Linked DNA regions of Homo sapiens. The protein of the gene in region 2 purifies or fractionates together with the protein of the main gene of each other region. This does not show direct contact. Each region holds a gene or a part of one and is shown on either strand. Other genes may lie near its edges.

The links. The genes of interacting proteins can lie anywhere in the genome.
Region 1: the proteins of RHOH (region 2) and ITGA6 purify together in Homo sapiens (affinity purification with mass spectrometry, with the first as the bait; one large-scale study listed by BioGRID). This does not show direct contact.

The regions. Positions count from the first base shown.
Region 1 is NC_000002.12:172,503,773-172,506,959, forward strand, and holds the end of ITGA6 (integrin alpha-6 isoform b preproprotein), read left to right. Parts: exon of another isoform or gene 1-318; coding exon of another isoform or gene 319-480; 3' UTR 481-2,687; downstream 2,688-3,187. UniProt on the Homo sapiens protein: Integrin alpha-6/beta-1 (ITGA6:ITGB1) is a receptor for laminin on platelets. Integrin alpha-6/beta-1 (ITGA6:ITGB1) is present in oocytes and is involved in sperm-egg fusion.
Region 2 is NC_000004.12:40,203,531-40,207,030, forward strand, and holds part of RHOH (rho-related GTP-binding protein RhoH precursor), read left to right. Parts: intron 1-2,182; exon of another isoform or gene 2,183-2,302; intron 2,303-3,500.

The DNA.
Region 1 (3,187 bases), on a different chromosome or scaffold from region 2:
GATTATTTTTAAATATGGAAGCACTGTTTTCATAAACTCTTAAATTGTTAGTAAAGAGGTAGCCTACATTTGTTATAAAATGTAAAGAGAAGATGAAAATGGACTTTTCTTCCAGTTTTACAGCTGTTCTCTTCCGTTGATCCCCACTGGCTCTTCTTTCATTTCAGCCTCTTGGTTCTTTCTTAAAAGAAAACCATGTCTTTTTCCCCTTAGTCCAGAGGTAGACATAGCTGAACAGAAAGCTTAGACATTCCCATTTAGTGTATTTGCTTCTTTGTGAGATTAATTTGTTTCTCTTTCTCTTTCCCTCTTCTCTAGTGTGGATTCTTTAAACGCTCTAGGTACGATGACAGTGTTCCCCGATACCATGCTGTAAGGATCCGGAAAGAAGAGCGAGAGATCAAAGATGAAAAGTATATTGATAACCTTGAAAAAAAACAGTGGATCACAAAGTGGAACGAAAATGAAAGCTACTCATAGCGGGGGCCTAAAAAAAAAAAGCTTCACAGTACCCAAACTGCTTTTTCCAACTCAGAAATTCAATTTGGATTTAAAAGCCTGCTCAATCCCTGAGGACTGATTTCAGAGTGACTACACACAGTACGAACCTACAGTTTTAACTGTGGATATTGTTACGTAGCCTAAGGCTCCTGTTTTGCACAGCCAAATTTAAAACTGTTGGAATGGATTTTTCTTTAACTGCCGTAATTTAACTTTCTGGGTTGCCTTTATTTTTGGCGTGGCTGACTTACATCATGTGTTGGGGAAGGGCCTGCCCAGTTGCACTCAGGTGACATCCTCCAGATAGTGTAGCTGAGGAGGCACCTACACTCACCTGCACTAACAGAGTGGCCGTCCTAACCTCGGGCCTGCTGCGCAGACGTCCATCACGTTAGCTGTCCCACATCACAAGACTATGCCATTGGGGTAGTTGTGTTTCAACGGAAAGTGCTGTCTTAAACTAAATGTGCAATAGAAGGTGATGTTGCCATCCTACCGTCTTTTCCTGTTTCCTAGCTGTGTGAATACCTGCTCACGTCAAATGCATACAAGTTTCATTCTCCCTTTCACTAAAACACACAGGTGCAACAGACTTGAATGCTAGTTATACTTATTTGTATATGGTATTTATTTTTTCTTTTCTTTACAAACCATTTTGTTATTGACTAACAGGCCAAAGAGTCTCCAGTTTACCCTTCAGGTTGGTTTAATCAATCAGAATTAGAGCATGGGAGGTCATCACTTTGACCTAAATTATTTACTGCAAAAAGAAAATCTTTATAAATGTACCAGAGAGAGTTGTTTTAATAACTTATCTATAAACTATAACCTCTCCTTCATGACAGCCTCCACCCCACAACCCAAAAGGTTTAAGAAATAGAATTATAACTGTAAAGATGTTTATTTCAGGCATTGGATATTTTTTACTTTAGAAGCCTGCATAATGTTTCTGGATTTCATACTGTAACATTCAGGAATTCTTGGAGAAAATGGGTTTATTCACTGAACTCTAGTGCGGTTTACTCACTGCTGCAAATACTGTATATTCAGGACTTGAAAGAAATGGTGAATGCCTATGGTGGATCCAAACTGATCCAGTATAAGACTACTGAATCTGCTACCAAAACAGTTAATCAGTGAGTCGATGTTCTATTTTTTGTTTTGTTTCCTCCCCTATCTGTATTCCCAAAAATTACTTTGGGGCTAATTTAACAAGAACTTTAAATTGTGTTTTAATTGTAAAAATGGCAGGGGGTGGAATTATTACTCTATACATTCAACAGAGACTGAATAGATATGAAAGCTGATTTTTTTTAATTACCATGCTTCACAATGTTAAGTTATATGGGGAGCAACAGCAAACAGGTGCTAATTTGTTTTGGATATAGTATAAGCAGTGTCTGTGTTTTGAAAGAATAGAACACAGTTTGTAGTGCCACTGTTGTTTTGGGGGGGCTTTTTTCTTTTCGGAAATCTTAAACCTTAAGATACTAAGGACGTTGTTTTGGTTGTACTTTGGAATTCTTAGTCACAAAATATATTTTGTTTACAAAAATTTCTGTAAAACAGGTTATAACAGTGTTTAAAGTCTCAGTTTCTTGCTTGGGGAACTTGTGTCCCTAATGTGTTTAGATTGCTAGATTGCTAAGGAGCTGATACTTTGACAGTGTTTTTAGACCTGTGTTACTAAAAAAAAGATGAATGTCCTGAAAAGGGTGTTGGGAGGGTGGTTCAACAAAGAAACAAAGATGTTATGGTGTTTAGATTTATGGTTGTTAAAAATGTCATCTCAAGTCAAGTCACTGGTCTGTTTGCATTTGATACATTTTTGTACTAACTAGCATTGTAAAATTATTTCATGATTAGAAATTACCTGTGGATATTTGTATAAAAGTGTGAAATAAATTTTTTATAAAAGTGTTCATTGTTTCGTAACACAGCATTGTATATGTGAAGCAAACTCTAAAATTATAAATGACAACCTGAATTATCTATTTCATCAAACCAAAGTTCAGTGTTTTTATTTTTGGTGTCTCATGTAATCTCAGATCAGCCAAAGATACTAGTGCCAAAGCAATGGGATTCGGGGTTTTTTTCTGTTTTCGCTCTATGTAGGTGATCCTCAAGTCTTTCATTTTCCTTCTTTATGATTAAAAGAAACCTACAGGTATTTAACAACCTACAAATTGGGAGTTGTCTTTGGACTGAATCCTCCTCTTCACTGCCTGTCCTTGTAAGGATAGGGAATTGCTTAGCAATGATAACCTGGCATTAAAAAAAATTCTGACAGCTAAGCTGCTTCCTTCTTAGAATATGTTTTGGATGTGGGAGCAGGCTAGCTGTGACGTGTGTGGCAGAATCAACTAGTCAGAAAATATTTTCTTCAGCAAAAGAAAGATTTTAGATTTGAGTTTTATGAAACTTCTCTAGCTGGATTATCACAACCTAATACAAGAAAATAAAATATATAAATATATAAATATATATAAATATAAATATATAAATATATATAAATATATATATACATATATACGTATATACACACACACACACACACACACACACACATATATATATATAAAATGCCTAGACAATATAGTGTGCCCTGGCCTGAATAAATGTCTGTCTAATATATTAGGTAATAGCTCTCCACTATACTTGGCATTACATAAAATCTTGGCCTTCT
Region 2 (3,500 bases):
TGTGTGTGTGTGTGAGAGAGAGAGAGTGTGTGTGTGTGTGTTGAAGGTGAAGCCGCTACTTAAAGGCTCAGAATTGAAGGACTTATAATGTAAAAGGGGAATGAAAACAGAGAAAGCCCAGAGGGACAAGTTATTTATTTGTTATAGAAACAAACAGCAAAAACCAGGAAGCTGTACTTACGATATTCCTTAAAGGAATATAGTTTGTGGCACAAAATCCTCTTCCACAGTTAAACAATTTTGTCCAGCACTTGAACCAATTAAAAGTAGCTGTGACTAGGGGAACTATGAGCACAGAGAAAGATGGTCATGGGGAGAGTCTGGGACCCATAAACATTCTATTTCAGGCCATCGAGCGGTGGTTATTAAACCCGTGGTAGAATATGGGAGTGCTACGGACAGAAAACACTCTGGACCTTACTGTATGATAACATTATGTTAAAGAAGAAAAGAAAGTATATTTTTTGATGAAATGTAGTATTTTATATACAGAACTCAGCACTCAAAATAGTAATAACAATTAGACTTATGCCACAACAACATTATATCACAAAATAAACATATGAAAGTGAATGACATCGCAGTAGCCACTGTTCTGAGATTATCTGCTTCACCTGGCTTTGGAAGTTTAGTGATTGTAATAGCTTTCAAATAGCCTTCAATGTCTCGTGCTCTTCTTAAAGTGGAGATGATTCTTTTACTTTAATCACATTCCCCATCGTCAGGGCCTCTGATCTCTTGAGACATGATGTGGTAAATCAAGGATAAGTTAACAACCCATCTTCACATTGGAGGCGCAAGTCACAGGGTCTGTCGGATGTGCAAGGGTCTAACGCCTGAAATCAGACCTCTTTCTACAAGCACGCGCTGACTATTCTATTCCCCACCTAACAGGGTTTTTCATGGACTGATTGGCTTGTGCTTTGGAGCAATGTTTCCTAATCACTAGTTTTGGTCACAGATTCGTTTGACAATGTGATGAGAGCCAAAGACTTTCTCACACAGGGCCATGAACATTTGCTGCACAGTCCTAGGGGATATAAGGACCCTCTAAAACCCATTCATGGACTCTCAGGGATCTAGAGGCCTCAAGTGAGGAGCTCTGCCCTCAGCAGAGGGAGCATTGCAGAGGAAGTTCTGGTTATTACTGACATCAGATTAAGCCCCTAAAGACAGAAATGCTGCTTCTCCAATTGATGGCTGAAATGAGGGTAAGATGGCGGATACAGGTGTAGTTTTATAGCATCAGATCCTTAAAATGAGTAGCATGTGGGGCTAGAGTTGTTTCCCTTCAGATAACATATGATTAATGCTCTAAATCCTTAGTTCTGAATTCTCTCATGTGAAGCCAGGGTTGGTTCCCATTTGGGAAAGCAGTCTCTCAAGATGCCACTTTAATGTCTTACTTATCAGCTCGTGATGCCTTGGGTGGCACAAGAAATGCAGGCAGGGCCGGGCGAGGTGGCTCACACTTGTAATCCCAGCACTTTGGGAGGCCGAGGCAGGCAGATCATCTGAGGTCAGGAGTTCGAAATCAGCCTGGCCAACATGGCAAAGCCCCAGCTCTACTAAAAATACAAAATTAGCTGGGCGTGGTGGCACATGAGCCTGTAATCCTAGCTACTCTGGAGGCTGAGGCAGGAGAATCGCTTGAATCCAGGAGACAGAGGTTTCAGTGAGCCAAGATCGTGTCACTGCACTGCAGTCTGGGCAACAAAGTGAGACTCAGTTTACAAGAAAAAGAAATGCAGGCAGGTTGTAAGCACTGATCTGGCCAACTCTAGAGTGTAGTGAGTAGTGTGGGGTCAGCTGATGCCCCTAAGCAACGTACTGGATACCCAGCCCAGCTGCTTTTAGGGTGAAAGGCATTAGCATTAGCCGGTGGGTAAAGTGCTCCCTTCTGGGTGTAAGATGTAGTTGTCTTATCTGAAGCTGAACATCTGGTTGGGCTTTGATAACTTTGAAGATAGTTCTTTTCCTGTGTAGCCTTTTGATCACAGAAGCCCTGTTGGTCATCTTCCATTAGTGGGTATCTGACCTGCAATTTGGGGAACTGAGTGTTTTCAGCTGAAAGCTCAGGGCTTTGTTCATTTCCTGTCCTCCCAGACTGTGGTATCAGGCAGGGTATGGAGACTTACCCCAAACCCGTCTGTTTAAATTAGCCAACCCTACTGGAAGTGGTAAGATGAGGCCACATTCTCATGTCACGGTCATACAGTGGATTGACACTGGATGAGAAAGAGAAACGCACTTCATCTTCATCCCTCCGGAGAAAAAGAATGTGAAATTGACTAAATACATGGTGAGTCAAGGTTCTCTTGGTGTGGGATAGCATAAAAATTGGAAATCTGTCTTTGAGATAGAAAGGGAAAATCTATAACAAATATGTTCCAGTAATCAGTGTGCCTTCATGTCTATAACCATTTTAATTATTGCACATCCATGACTACATTTCTTGTAAGTTTCAATATCTATTTTAATAATAATATTGCATCATACAGTCACAGCCCTCAAAACACAAATATTCCATGTACACCAAAGGCTGGTAGCAAAGTCTCTACTCCTCTTACCTCCTGGAGATTATTTTCCCCTGCCAGGTCATTATGTCTAGCAACCTAGTTGCCCATGCAGAGAATGGACTGGCACAAATCTCTTCCTTGGCTCTTTTCCTTTCTTTCAGGCAGGACCCCTACTTTTAATTTGTCTTCCCTCCAGGTCCAGCTGTCACCTTCTTGAGAGACTCTAAATATACAACCCTTACTACGAACCTTTTTCTCCCTTTCTTGCATTTTTTTTTCTCAGTTGCCACAAAAAATTCTTCTGGTCTTTGTTCCAGTTTTGAGCTGAAAATGATCCCAACTGTGGTTGAGAAGCATAAGAATGCCTGTAATTATTCCTTCTAACAAGGAAAAGGAAACTCAATATATTTAGAGTCAAATTTAAATGATGTAAAATCAATTACAAAAACCTTTAAGGGGCCTAAAAGTCCCCTTTGGCATACTTTTTCTTGATAAAACCTGATTTTCCTCAAGCTCTACTCTTTGGGCAGTAACTTGCTGAAAATTATATCAATAGTAGTCTTTCTCTGTCTTCTTCATGTGATAAGGAAGTAGGAGAGAGGGTTGGAGGCACGTACAGGAAATAGGAGGGGAAAAGCCAGAAAAACCCTTACTTATTGACAATACCACAATTTCCTATATGTGCCAAAACAATATTGTCACTATATTCCTAAACACAGAATATCCGGCAATATCAGAGAAATATCTATAATAATTTCTACTTTAAAAATATAATAGTAATGGATATTTGTTGTAGCAAATATGTCATATGCCTTTTAGGTTAAATATACTTGTATACATCTTATTTGTAAGTGTTTATGTATTAAAATTGCCATCAGGCTGGGCGCGGTGGCTCATGCCTGTAATCCCAGCACTTTGGGAGGCTGAAGCGGGCGGATCACGAGGTCAGGAGTTCAAGACCAGCCTGGCCAAGATGGTGAA